Linked DNA regions of Homo sapiens. Changing the gene in region 2 together with the main gene of any one other region gives a genetic interaction. Each region holds a gene or a part of one and is shown on either strand. Other genes may lie near its edges.

What was found.
Region 1: changes in MMP25 (region 2) and MAPK3 together harm fitness more than expected from each alone (negative genetic interaction), as found in Homo sapiens cells (one large-scale study listed by BioGRID).
Region 3: changes in MMP25 (region 2) and PRKCZ together harm fitness more than expected from each alone (negative genetic interaction), as found in Homo sapiens cells (one large-scale study listed by BioGRID).
Region 4: changes in MMP25 (region 2) and XIAP together harm fitness less than expected from each alone (positive genetic interaction), as found in Homo sapiens cells (one large-scale study listed by BioGRID).

Annotation. Positions count from the first base shown.
Region 1 is NC_000016.10:30,116,877-30,120,251, forward strand, and holds part of MAPK3 (mitogen-activated protein kinase 3), read right to left. Parts: intron 1,663-3,375; coding exon 1,473-1,662; intron 1,288-1,472; coding exon 1,171-1,287; intron 909-1,170; coding exon 794-908; intron 410-793; coding exon 278-409; intron 128-277; coding exon 18-127; coding exon of another isoform or gene 1-17.
Region 2 is NC_000016.10:3,053,004-3,056,570, reverse strand, and holds part of MMP25 (matrix metalloproteinase-25 preproprotein), read right to left. Parts: exon of another isoform or gene 2,765-3,567; coding exon of another isoform or gene 1,796-2,764; exon of another isoform or gene 1,539-1,795; intron 1,516-1,538; exon of another isoform or gene 1,397-1,515; intron 1,316-1,396; coding exon of another isoform or gene 1,233-1,315; intron 836-1,232; exon of another isoform or gene 742-835; coding exon of another isoform or gene 622-741; intron 1-621. Other genes in the region: sialidase-like, read left to right, coding at 1,796-2,764. UniProt on the Homo sapiens protein: May activate progelatinase A.
Region 3 is NC_000001.11:2,168,869-2,172,435, forward strand, and holds part of PRKCZ (protein kinase C zeta type), read left to right. Parts: exon of another isoform or gene 1-582; intron 583-625; coding exon of another isoform or gene 626-649; coding exon 650-736; intron 737-3,186; coding exon 3,187-3,322; intron 3,323-3,432; coding exon 3,433-3,520; intron 3,521-3,567. UniProt on the Homo sapiens protein: Calcium- and diacylglycerol-independent serine/threonine-protein kinase that functions in phosphatidylinositol 3-kinase (PI3K) pathway and mitogen-activated protein (MAP) kinase cascade, and is involved in NF-kappa-B activation, mitogenic signaling, cell proliferation, cell polarity, inflammatory response and maintenance of long-term potentiation (LTP).
Region 4 is NC_000023.11:123,908,486-123,912,052, reverse strand, and holds part of XIAP (E3 ubiquitin-protein ligase XIAP), read right to left. Parts: 3' UTR 1-3,567.

The DNA.
Region 1 (3,375 bases), about 27 Mb from region 2:
GCTGGGGACTGGCCCACCTCATCCGTCGGGTCATAGTACTGCTCCAGGTAGGGGTGAGCCAGCGCTTCCTCCACTGTGATCCGTTTATTGGGGTTAAAGGTTAACATCCGGTCCAGCAGGTCAAGGGCTATGGAAGGGCAGGAGTCAGGGGTCACAGGGAAGACTGGAGGAGCTCCGAGAAGCATTGCTTTGCCTGTCTCCTCCAGCGGCTGCTGGGCTCACACACCCTCCACGACACCCAAGGTTTATCCCACACCCACCCTCATGTCTCTCGAACCTTTGGAGTCTGACTTGGGGAAAAGCTTGGCCCAAGCCACCTTGGTCTTGGAGGGCAGAGACTGTAGGTAGTTTCGGGCCTTCATGTTGATGATACAATTCAGGTCCTCCTGGGATGGGGAGCCCAGGATGCCTGTGGATAAGGAGGTGACTTGGTAAATGATCACCTCTTTCTTTCTGGGAACAGAATAGGCAACAAGGCAAGAACAAGACCCCCCAGCCCAGCAACCCATGCCAATCCCTCAGTCACCTCCTAGTCATTAGCATGGTGGTGCAGAGCAAGGGGGCTGGGTTCAGGCAGACCGAGGCTCAAATCCTAGGTCTGGTGCCTCCTCAGGTGTGGGACTTAGCCTTGCTTTTCCCATCTATCCAATGGGGATAATATCTATACCTCATTGAGATACCATGAGATGCTGGAGGCACCCCACACGTGGTGGTATCCCTGACTTGGACTCTCGAGAAATCTCACCTCGGAAAAGCTAATCATCCCCAACTCAGCCAGCCGGGCCTCCCTCACCCAGAATGTGGTTGAGCTGATCCAGGTAGTGCTTGCCAGGGAAGATGGGCCGGTTAGAGAGCATCTCAGCCAGAATGCAGCCCACAGACCAGATGTCGATGGACTTGGTATAGCCCTGGGGGAGAGGAGGAAGTGGTGAGCTCCTGGGCCAGCCTCAACAGGGTCCTGTTGTCTGCGCCAGGCCACCACCTCCAAGTTAGATCCAACACCAGGCAGAAGGCAGAGGCCTGGAGGGCTCAATGCTCAGCTTCCTTGCAGAGCCCAAGGCCCAGAGGGTAGAATTCCTGTGTCATGGGGGTCAGTGTCTGGCTCAGAGGTAGCTCCAGGGCTTCCTGGGAACTGGTCCGTTCCTTTCAGGAGTGGGCAGCCCCTCCTACCTTGGAGTTCAGCATGATCTCTGGGGCCCGGTACCAGCGCGTAGCCACATACTCCGTCAGGAAGCCGGTGTGGTCATGCTCAGGATCGGCAATCCGGGCCAGGCCGAAATCACAAATCTGGAATCAGACCTAGCTGCTAAGCTCGGCGCTCAAGGCCTCTGCAGCCTAAGCAGTCACGCCCCCTTGTCTTTGCCTCCACTGTTCCCTTTGCTTGCAATGTTCTCCTGCCCAAGGCTTCTTCTACTGGTCACTGGAAGCCCCAGACCCTGGGGGAGGAGGGGACAGGTGCCCAACCCTCTGACCTTAAGGTCGCAGGTGGTGTTGATGAGCAGGTTGGAGGGCTTTAGATCTCGGTGGAGCACGTTGGCGGAGTGGATGTACTTGAGGCCCCGCAGGATCTGGTAGAGGAAGTAGCAGATATGGTCATTGCTCAGCTGCTGGCTTTTCAGCAACTTGTACAGGTCAGTCTCCATCAGGTCCTGCACAATGTAGCTGAGGATGGTTCCGCAGACCCCCCCAGGCAGGGGGCAGTGGGAGGCACTTGGTTAAGGAAAACAGGCTCTGAAGGCGAGGCTGCACACCTCCTCCAGCCAGGGCCCCTGGGACTCAATAGATCTGCCAACCTGCACCACCAGCTGGGGAAGCTGCTGCCATTACCCAGCGGCAGGGCTCTGAGCCTCTGTTGCATCACAGTTGCTGATCCTGAGCAAGGGGCTTCATTTCTGAGGCCTCAGTTTCCCTACCGGGGAAACGGGGATAATAATAAACTGTGGGAGGCAGGAGAACTTCACAGTTAAGAGCAGCAACTTGGGCCAGGAGTGGTGGCTCACACCTGTAATCCCAGCACTTTGGGAGGCTGAGGCGGGAGGACTGCTTGAGGCCAGGAGTTTGAGACCACCAGCCTGGGCAACATGGCAAAACCCTGTCTCTACTAAAAATAGCAAAATTAACTGGGCACGGCGGCATGTGCCTGTAATCCCAGCTACTCAGGAGGCTGCAGCACGAGAATCACTTGAACCCAGGAGGCAGATGTTGCAGTGAGCCAAGATTGTGTCACTGCACTGCAGCCCGGATGACAGAGTGAGACTCTGTCTCAAAAATAAATAAATTAAAAAAAAAAAAAAACCTACAAAAAGAGCAGCAACTCTGGAGTTAACCCATGGATGTCTGAAATCTCCTCTCTACTACTCACTGGCTTTAGGATCTCAACCTGTCTGTGCCTCAACTTTCTCATCTGGTATGTAGGGGAAATAATGTTTTTTTGTTTGTTTGTTTGTTTTCTTTTTGTGGAGATGGGCTCTTGCTCTGTTGCCCAGGCAGGTCTTGAACTCATGGGTTCAAGTGTTCCTTCCACCTCGGCCTCCCAAAGTGCTGGAAATTACAGGTGCAAGCCATGAAATAATGGTTCTTTTGAGGGTGGTTGTGAAGACTAGATGAGATGGCGCATGTAAAGCTGTCAGCCCAGTGCTTGGCAAGTTGTGAGTGCTAGGCAAACATGAACTATTATTACTAATATGAATGCCTGAGTCACATGGCTGTTGAGGGAGTTAAATGAGATAATGTATGAACACCATCTGGCATGCAATAAATGTTTGCTTAAAAATAAATGCCTGCCTTATGGGAATGGTTTGTGCAAGAAAAATGAGGAGACACTCCCAACAGCACACTCCCACTCAAAGGAGAGTGCTTGGCCATACCTCAGAAGATGGAGGAGTAAAATGTCTTTTTCTATTTGAAGATACAAAAAAGCTTATGCGTAAATAAATAAATAAATCCACAAATGCTGTTTGGCTTGTCTCTAGAAAAATAAGTCAGGGCTGTCTTTTAGAATCTGCCTTGAGACCAGGCATGGTGGCTCATGCCTGTAATCCCAGCTCTTCAGGAGGCCAAGGTGGGTTGATGACCTGAGGTCAGGAGTTTGACGCCAGCCTGGTGAACAGGGCGAAACCCCGCATCTACTGAAAATACAAAAATTAGCCGGGCGTGGTGGCAGGCGCCTGTAGTCCCAGCTACTTGGAAGGCTGAGGCAGGAGAATAGCTTGAACCTGGGAGGTGGAGGTTGCCGTGAGCTGAGATTGAGCCACTGCACTCTAGCCTGGGCAACAGAGGGAGACTCCATCTAAAAACAAACAAACAAAAAACAAAGAAAACAAGAATCAGCCTTGAAAGGGTCTTCAGAGAATATGTGGACCAGCCCTGCTGTTT
Region 2 (3,567 bases):
GAGTGGTGGCGCATGCCTGTGGTCCCAGCTACTCAGGTCCCAGGCTGAGGCAGGGAGGCAGGAGAATCGCTGGAGCCCGGGAGGTGGAGGCTGCAGTGACGCATGACCATGTCATTGCACTCCAGCCTGGAGGACAGAATAAGGCCCCGTCTCAAAAAAAGTAAAAAGAAAAAAAAAGAAAAAGAAAATAAAAGAAACTTAAGAGGGCGGTGGGGTGAGGGCAGGAGCCTACAAGGTGCGTGCCATTCTCTTCAGGCAGCCCCAGCCCTGGGAGCATCCCCTCCTCCCAGCTACAGTCTATAGTCAGCGACCCCCACCCGTCTCCCCCTTGCCACCCCCATCTGCTGGGGATGTAGGTCCATGTCCTTGACCCAAGACCTTCCCTCATTCCTGCCCCCATCCCTCCTCAAGCCATATCCCTTACATCCCTTGAGTCCTCCATCCCCCCTCCCCCATCTCCCTGTTCACAGCCTCTGCCCCTCCTCTCCCTACCCTGTACCACCCCCACCCCAGGTCTTCCTCCATCTCCTTGGGAACACAGAGCTCCTCTAGCAGGCACTCTCAGAACACAGCCTGCCGGCCCCAGCACCCGGCCTTGCTCCCAGCCTCTTCCCTCTGTATTCAGCTCAGGCGCTCAGGACTGCCAGGACCCAGAGGATTCACACGCCAGCCCCGGCTGAAGCCCAGCTCCTCATCAACCGGTGAGCCGCCTGCCAGCTCCTGCTCCAGCTGCTGAGAGGCCTGAAGAGACCAAGACAGAGACACAGCCCCGCAGCACCACAGGGAGGCCCCAGTTACCCCATGCGGATGAGTTTCATGGCCATCTCTAACTAAGGTCAGCACTGTTCAGGGCAGGTTCATAGGTAACGACCTGGTGAACTGAAAAGCAAATTTCTCTCGGTCCCTAAAGCCACTCGCTGAGCGTCTAAGCATGAAACGTGAGACCTAAGAGGGGTAGCAAACACGTTTTCGTTCACTTCTCACCAAACCTGTCTCCTATGCCCATTTTACAGAGGAGGAAACTGAGGCACAGAGACTTCAAGGTAGATGGCCAGGTACCCTGGCTCTGCCAGCCTGCCTTTCAGCAGGGGCTTCAATGGTCTTGCTCAAATCACATCCGCACTGACGAATTTCCCTGTCGACTGTAGGTTCTCTTGTTGCTCTGAGTCCTTTTTCTGAGAAACTGGGGGTAGTTTGGTGTTTCAATCAGGGCGATATCTTTCATCTCTCACCTTCTTCCCTGCCTTGTCTCTCCTTGGCCATACTGGGCTTCCGGGCCCTGCACCCCTTCCTGCACCCTTGTCACGCCATGCATCTGGGGGAAGTTACACAACCACAGCTGTGCAGACCCAGCCCCACAAGATTCCCAGAGGGCAGTCCACAGGGGCCCCGGCACCTCCTGTCATCCTTGCTCCAGGCTTTGGCAGGCAGCTCCTGCACGCTCCCCTCAGCCCCATTCCAGGCCCACAGCCCCTCAAGCTTCCACCCAGCCCCAGCCACTAACTCTCAAATGACAAATGTGTTTCCTGTTTCATCAGGACAGGACATCGATGTCATCTGTAACTTCCGGTGCACTGGGGCACACAGCTGCATCTCCCCATGCTCACCTCCTGCCTCTTGCTCTGCCCAGTGTGAGGACTCAGCCTGGATCACCTCCTCCAGGACAAGAACAACCTACCATCATCTGTCCGTCCAATCTACCCACCCATCCATCTCTGCCTCTGGCCATGCATCCGTCCGTCCATCCATCCCCGCCTCTGTGCATGCATCTGTCCATCCATCCCCGCCTCTGTGCATGCATCTGTGCATCCATCCATCCCTGCCTCTGTGCATGCATCTGTCCATCCATCCCCGCCTCTGTGCATGCATCTGTCCATCCATCCCCACCTCTGTGCATGCATCTGTCCGTACATCCATCCCTGCCTCTGTGCATGCATCTGTCCATTCATCCCTGCCTCTGTGCATGCATCTGTCCATCCATCCATCCCCGCCTCTGTGCATGCATCTGTCCATCCATCCCTGCCTCTGTGCATGCATCTGTCCATTCATCCCTGCCTCTGTGCATGCATCTGTCCATCCATCCATCCCTGCCTCTGTGCATGCATCTGTCCATTCATCCCTGCCTCTGTGCATGCATCTGTCCATCCATCCATCCCTGCCTCTGTGCATGCATCTGTCCATTCATCCCTGCCTCTGTGTATGCATCTGTCCATCCATCCATCCCCACCTCTGTGCATGCATCTGTCCATCCATCCCCGCCTCTGTGCATGCATCTGTCCGTCCATCCATCCCTGCCTCTGTGCATGCATCTGTCCGTCCATTCATCCCTGCCTCTGTGCATGCATCTGTCCATTCATCCATCCCTGACTCTGTGCATGCATCTGTCCATCCATCCATCCTTGCCTCTATGCATGCATTTGTCCGTCCATCCATCCCTGCCTCTGTGCATGCATCCATACCTGCCTCTGTGCATGCATCTGTCAGTCTATCAATCCCCGATCCCTTCTTTGTAATGGTGTTGAGCGCTCACAACTCCCTCATCCTAAGACGCTCGTTGGATCCATTCCCTCCCCTCACCCCATGCTGCTCTCTGCCCTCCCTTCCCGGTCAAGTTCTCCAGCCAGTGGTCTCAACTCAATCTTCACTTCCCCCGCTCCTCTCACACCTATCCCCACTGCATTCTAAATTCTTCCCCAACGCGCTGGGCCTACAGGCACTAAAAAGGTCACTTTGTCCCTGGATGACCAAACACAGGCCAATGTAACTTACTGGGCTTGTTTTGCCCCAGCCACAGCTGACCACTTCCTCCTTCACTCTTGTTGTTGATCACCTTTGGGCTTAGTCTTTCTCCATCTCTGTTGAGTCCTTCTCCCCTGCCACCTACTCCTTCATGCTGGGGTTCTCTGTAGCTCTGTACCTGACAGTCACGTTCCACCCTTTCCTCCCAGAAGCTCGCCAACCCCCGTGGACTGCTGGCTCTCAAGGCGGCCGCTAGCCCAGCTCCGACAGCAGCTGACAATGCACAGTATGCGGCCCAGGGCAGGCCCTGTGCTGAGAGGCATGGGTGAATGGCTCATTTCATCGGCAAGCCCACGCCACCAGCAGGCGCCGTTCTCCTCGCATTTCTCAGGCGAGGAACCTGAGACAATGAGGTTAAGGAAGTTGTTCATTACAAGTGGAAGAACCCTGACTTACTTGAATTCAGCTTTGAAGCCCACATTCTCTTTTTCTGTGTGTGTGACAGGGTCTCACTTTGTCACCCAGGCCGCAGTGCAGTGGTGTGAACACAGCTCATTGCAGTCTCAACCTCCCTGACTCAAGCAATCCTCCTGCCTTAGCCTCCTGAGTAGCTGGGACTACAAGCATGTGCCACCACGCCCAGCCGAAGCCCATATGTGAATGTTGAGGCACACAGCCTCCCCAGCCTCTGCCTTACCAAGCCCTCCACAGGGCCTAGGCACCCTCCCTGGCTGCCCCCTTCCCCCGTCACTCAGGCTCCCCAGCAGCCAATGTAGTTAATATGGGGCTGCAAAGAGCTGGGCCTGGCCTCAGGCGGGACCGCCTCCC
Region 3 (3,567 bases), on a different chromosome or scaffold from region 2:
TGAAATGTAGGAAAAGATCTTATTAGGAAGAGAAACCATGTGGCCCAGTCCCTGAGACGGGAAGGGCCTGCGTGGTCCTGATGACATCTGCGGATCTTTTAAAATCATACGATCATGTCTGCGAAACCGGGATGCCACTTCCCACCTGGCTTCTCCCTGACCCCAGCTTGTTCCCTTGGAGGGCCGGTGGACTCCTCAGCCTTGCAGCAATGAAATCAGGCCTTGAGGCCACCCCACCCGTGACCTGCGGTGCTGTCCCCATGCAAGAAACTGCCTCGCTCCAGCCCCCAGCAGATCCTGTCCCAGCCCCCAGCCCTGGTCCAAGCCACCTCCACTCCCACCTGGTGACGGGCCACCTCCTTCATTCCGGGGCCCACCCACACTTCCCAAGTCCACACACAGTGGCCAAGAGTGAAGGCCGGCGAGGCCCCCGCATGACTCCCTCACCTGCACCCTTCACGAGCGGCCCCGCAGCCCGTCCCCACCAGCCCCTCTCTGCTGCCAGGGTGCTCCTGCTGCTCTTTGCTCTTTGCAAGACTGAACCTGCGGGAGGGTTCGGGCCCACGAAGGCCGCTTCTGTGGGGCTTCTGTCTAAGGAGGCCGCCGTCTGCCGAGGTGACTGCAGCCTCCGGCGCCTCTCTCCCTGCAGGTTGTTCCTGGTCATTGAGTACGTCAACGGCGGGGACCTGATGTTCCACATGCAGAGGCAGAGGAAGCTCCCTGAGGAGCACGCCAGGTGGGTGCGCGTGGACGGGGCCGGGTGGGTGCGCCCGGAGTTGGGGATGGGTGGGTGCGTGCGGTGTTGGGGGGCTGGGTGGGTGCGCACAGAGGGATGACGGGTGGGTGCGCGCGGAGTTGGGGGGCCGGGTGGGTGTGCGCAGAGGGGAGGTGGCTGGGTGGGGTGTGCACGGAGGGGGTATGACGGGGGCGGGGGGGGCGGGGTGCACGTGGAGGGGGCCGGGGACCTTCTCCAGGGGTCAGCAGGGAGCTCAAGGGAGGGAAGTCCAGGTAGGATGGCAGAGGGCATCATGTCCCCCACAGTGTGACGTCCCCTGCATTGTGACACATTCCATATTTGCTCCAGAGTCACAACATTTGGGAGGTCTCCTGAGTTATGGTGCCTCAGACCAGTCCCCCAGGCCCCACCCCTGAAGCAGCACCATGCCTCATCCGAGAGAAGTGAGAGTCTCCTGGGATTGTGCTGTCTTCATGGTGGCTCTGCCCTGGTTCTGCTCTTCACCCTGTTAGTGGCACAGCATGGCCAGCATTTCCTCAGCGTTAGGAGCAGAACGAGAGTGGTCTGTTTCTAGAGTGACCTGAGAGACTCCTTCCTGCCCTTCCCTTTCATCTCTGATATCTTCGGGCCTCCCCTGGCAGCCGAGGGGCCTCCAGCATGGTTCAGGAGCCTCCCCCGGCAGCCGCGGGACCTCCAGGACCGTTTGGGGGCTTATTTCAGCTCCCTGGACCTTTCCTGTCTTTTGTAGTTTCTCCTTTTCCTCATTTCCTTACTTAAGAACGTTGCATGCAGTTTTGTGAGTCACCTTAGATTGTTTCTGGCAATAGGACAGTAGGCAATAAATCTAGAACAGTACACTTCCCACAACGCTGTTTTTAAAAACTGTGGCAACACACAACATAAAAGGTAGCATTTTGGGGCATGGAATTCAGTGGCGTTGAATGCACCCCATGCTTTGCAGCCACTGCTGGCCCCCGTCTCATCTCCAGAGCACGCCCCTCTTCCCTGCTGAAGCTTGGCCCATCAGACACTCCCTCCCTGTCCCCCGCCCCAGCCTCACATCCTCACCCCAGACGGGCACGTCCCACTTTCTGTCCCTCTGATTCGAGGACTCTAGGGACCTCATCGGAGTGGAATCACAGTGTTGGTCCTTCGGTGGCTCATTTTCCTGAGCATAGCGTCCTCAAGATTCATCCGTGCTGTGGCCTGTCTCAGAATTGCCTTCCTTTTTCAGGCTGGATAATGCCCCGTTGGATGGAGGGGCCACACTTTGCTTATCCGTCCATCCCTCGGGGGGCACTTGAGTGGCATCCACATGTTGGCCATGGTGAACAGTGCTGCTGTGAACATGGGTGTGAAGTAATCTCTTGAACACCCTGCTTCCGGTTCTTTGGGGTATACACCCAGAAACTGAATTGCTAACCACATAAGAATTCCATATTTAGGCCGGGCGTGGTGGCTCACGCCTGTAATCCCAGCACTTTGAGAGGCCAAGGCGGGCGGATCACGAGGTCAGGAGATCGAGACCATCCTGGCTAACACGGTGAAATAACACAGTGAAACCCTGTCTCTACTAAAAATACAAAAAATTATCCAGGTGTGGTGGCGGGCGCCTGTAGTCCTAGCTACTCGGGAGGCTGAGGCAGGAGAATGGCGTGAACCTGTGGGCAGAGCTTACAGTGAGCCAAGATCGCGCCATTGCACTCCAGCCTGGGTGACAGAGTGAAACTCTGTCTCAAAAAAAAAAAAAAAAAGGTCATATTTAATTTTTTTTTTTTTTTGATGGAGTCTCGCTCTGTCACCCAGGCTGGAATGCAGTGGTGGGATCTCAGCTCACTGCAGCCTCTGCCTCCCAGGTTCAAGTGATTCTCCTGCCTCAGCCCCCAGAGTAGCTGGGACTACAGGTGTGCGCCACCATACCCGGCTAATTTTTTTGTATTTTTAGTAGAGACGGAGTTTCGCCATGTTGCCCAGGCTGGTCTTGAATTCCTGACCTCAGGTGATCTGCCTGCCTCGACCTCCCGAAGTGCTGGGATTACAGGTGTGAGCCACCAAGCCTGGCACCGTGTTTAATTTTCGAGGACCTGCCGGACTGTCTTCCGCAGCAGCGGCGCTGTTCTGCACTCCTACCACAACGTGCCATGGCTCCGGTCTTTCCCGCATGGAAGCTGTCGTGTTATTTGCCCGCTCCTCCCCTTGTGGAGGCTGCCACATCGTTCTCTGTGTCTTTGACAGCAGGCCATCCTAAGGCGCATGGGGTGGTGTCCTGGAGCTTTCATTGGCATTTCCCTCCCTGGCCCTGTGCACTGCACTTTCAAATCCTGGGCCTGGTCATTGAGAGGATGCCGGGCCCGTGGTGGGGCAAACGGGAGTGTGTGGCCCCCAGGCTGGAGCTGTTGGCGCAGCCTCTGGCACAGGCACTGCCCCCATGACGGCATCCCCACCCCCAGGTTCTACGCGGCCGAGATCTGCATCGCCCTCAACTTCCTGCACGAGAGGGGGATCATCTACAGGGACCTGAAGCTGGACAACGTCCTCCTGGATGCGGACGGGCACATCAAGCTCACAGACTACGGCATGTGCAAGGTGCGTGCCTTGGACCGCCTCCCCTGACCATCCCGCATGTGCGTCTCGGGGCGCCTGTCCCGCGGGGTAGTGTCTACAAGAACCCTCTCCCAGTAACTTTGCCCCCACAGGAAGGCCTGGGCCCTGGTGACACAACGAGCACTTTCTGCGGAACCCCGAATTACATCGCCCCCGAAATCCTGCGGGGAGAGGAGTACGGTGAGTGCCGCTGCCCTGGCCCCTCTCGGAGCACACAGGGCCAGAGA
Region 4 (3,567 bases), on a different chromosome or scaffold from region 2:
TAAACATTTGGACCTTTCAAGAAAGGTAGCTTGGTGAAGTTTTTCACCTTCAAACTATGTCCCAGTCAGGGCTCTGCTACTAATTAGCTATAATCTTTGCACAAATTACATCACCTTTGAGTCTCAGTTGCCTCACCTGTAAAATGAAAGAACTGGATACTCTCTAAGGTCACTTCCAGCCCTGTCATTCTATAACTCTGTTATGCTGAGGAAGAAATTCACATTGTGTTAACTGTATGAGTCAAACTGAAAATGATTATTGAAGTGGGAAAAAGCCAATTGCTTCTCTTAGAAAGCTCAACTAAATTTGAGAAGAATAATCTTTTCAATTTTTTAAGAATTTAAATATTTTTAAGGGTTTGACCTATTTATTTAGAGATGGGGTCTCACTCTGTCACCCAGACTGGAGTACAGTGGCACAATCATAGCTCACTGCTGCCTCAAATTCATGGGCTCAAGTGATCCTCCTGCCTCTGCCTCCAGAGTAGCTGCGACTATGGGCATGTGCCACCACGCCTGGCTAACATTTGTATTGACCTATTTATTTATTGTGATTTATATCTTTTTTTTTTTTTGAGACAGAGTTTTGCTCTTGTTGCCCAGGCTGGAGTGCAATGGCACGATCTTCGCTCACCACAACCTCCGCCTCCTGGGTTCAAGCGATTCTCCTGCCTCAGCCTCCCAAGTAGCTGGGATTACAGGCATGAGCCACCACGCCCAGCTAATTTTGTATTTTTAGTAGAGACGGGGTTTCTCCATGTTGGTCAGGCTGGTCTCGACCTCCCGACCTCAGGTGATCTGCCCGCCTCGGCCTCCCAAAGTGCTGGGATTACAGGCATGAGCCACCGCGCCCAGCTGATTTATATCTTATCTATGAGAAACACCAAAAACTATGAGTAAGCATCACTGAGTTATCATGTAAGAATTTTTTCTAAGTTTTAGCCCAAATTTCCAGGTCAAGACAAACCCACAGAGAGGTAAAAGGGTATTAGGATGGGAGTTCATATTTACAGCAGGAACTTTACATACATGGTCTCCTTGAGCTCTTGCAACCTTGTAAGATAAGTATTATTTTCCTTTCACAGATGAATAAACTGCTACCCTTTTTTTAACAAGTAGATTTGACTAAAAAGAACTATGTCAAATATTGCTTCCCATTTTCTTATTTCTTTTTTTTTTTTTTTTGAGACAGAGTCTTGCTCTGTTGCCCAGGCTGGAGTGCAGTGGCGAGATCTCGGCTCACTGCAAGCTCTGCCTCCCGGGTTCACACCATTCTCCTGCCTCAGCCTCCCGAGTAGCTGGGACTACAGGCGCCCGCCACCACGCCCGGCTAATTTTCTGTTTTTTAGTAGAGACGGGGTTTCACCGTGTTAGCCAGGATGGTCTCGATCTCCTGACCTCGTGATCCACCTGCCTCAGCCTCCCAAAGTGCTGGGATTACAGGCGTGAGCCACTGAGCCCAGCCCCATTTTATTTCATTTCTCTAACAGCAATGATATATATACATCCCATAGTATATCCTACTGATATACTAGCCCCTTTCCCCATTCAACACCTGTGTAATCAGGAAATAAAACAATGATTCGGGTTTAAAGGGTATATCATGTGAAACTAATGCTGGGGCGGTAGTCTCCATTCATAGTTCAAAATACAAATTTTATCCACTAAAATGGAAACACAAAAAACAACTACTGAAATGTAAATAATATAACAACAAAAATAACAAAATATCATAATACACAGGGCCAAATCACATTATATACACTCACTACACCCACTCTACCCTACCTTAGCCCGTAATCAAAGGGACAGGGGAAAAAACCAAATGTAGCAGGAAAGGCAATATAAAGCTATTAATTAATTAACTGGAATTTAGTTTGTAAATGCTAAAACCAGTTCTCAAAAATTAAGACAATGCTTTTGATCAGCAGACTAAATTATTACAAATAAAGATAAGTACTTATTGCAAAACTACTTGAATCTTTGCATGACTAAAATGTAAAATAAGTGGTGACTTGAAATCCTAGAGTGAACTTTATACAGAAAAGGAATAGTCTACATGTAGACACTGAGAACTCTTGGGAGGGGGAAAAGATTTGGATATGGCTATAGTTTTGACTTTGCAAATGATCAATTTTTGCGGAATTAGATGGAAAAGATCCGGTGCTTTTTATAGTTCAAACACAGACAAATGCTGTTAAGTCTCCAAAAATTTGATTAGAAGTTGGAGTGCTGAGTGATTTTAAGAACCTGAAGCAACAGCATTTCTAAACAATTCTTAAAATAAACTTGTTAGCCACATCAGCGTTGTGCATTAAATTTCACAACTCATGGAGAGGAAGAAAAAAAGTCTTGCTTAACTCTAAACATACAAGTTTTAGAAGAATTTTAATGAAGTGCGGCTCCCAGAACAGGAAAAGCCTTATGTTAAAACAATTCAGTCCTTGAGTCCTTGGCTAACAACTAGATTGAACTACCTACCTGACTTGGAAGTGAAGTGTCCTGGAAAACATATTTTAAAAATTTTAACACTTTTCTCCCCTTGTAGAAAACTTTAAATTTAAAGTCTAGACTATACAGACCAAATTCAAGTTAATGACTATATAACCAAACTAAGTGGCAGACAGTGCAAAGGTGAAGAACTGAGGATTTACATACTAAAACAGAAACAGGGCAGTCATTATTTAATTTTTAAAACTCTCATTTAAATTTGCAATGTTTTAGCCGGGCGTGGTGGCTCAAGCCTGTAATCCCAGCACTTTGGGAGGGCAAGGCGAGTGGATCTCTTGAGGTCAGGAGTTTGATACCAGCCTGGCCAACATGGTGAAACCCCGTCTCTACTAAAAATAAAAAAAAATTAGTCGGGCATGGTGGCACCTGCCTGTAATTCCAGCTACTCAGGAAGCTGAGGCACGAGAATCGCTTGAACCCAGAAGGCGGAGGTTGCAGTGAGCAGAGATCACTCCACTGCACTCCAGCCTGGGTGACAAGCAAGACTCCATCTCAAAAAGAAAATTAAATAAATAAAATAAATTTGCAATGTTTTAAATGAATATCACTTAAAGTAGTAATCAACAGAAGTTAGGAGAACATAACAATACTCTTTCTCTTAGAAAGTACAACAAAAATATAATTTTTTACAGTTTTACTCTCAAACTTTCCTCTGTAGTAACATGCCTTACTCACCTCTACAATAGGTTTGTTGTGAGAATCTTGTAATGTAAACCCTGGACGTTCTATGAAGCATTTTTAAACTTCTAGTTTATACCCTACTGATTCTTATTCAAGTGTTTTTTAAAAAATATTTAAACAACTATTCTTCTTTTCTTGCCAATATTTTTATAATTTCCAAGAGGTTTTAAGGATCTTGAGAGAACATTTATTTCAGAAGTATCTACTACTATTACTAGCCAAGAAAACAAATGTAGGTAGAGGAAAGACTTAACATTTTGTCCTATATACATCTTAATCATCCTAACGGTAAAAACTCACATGAAACTTTAAGATACAAGATGATATGAGAATCTCAACATGGAAAGCTGTCACTATAACTACAAGCAGTGTACA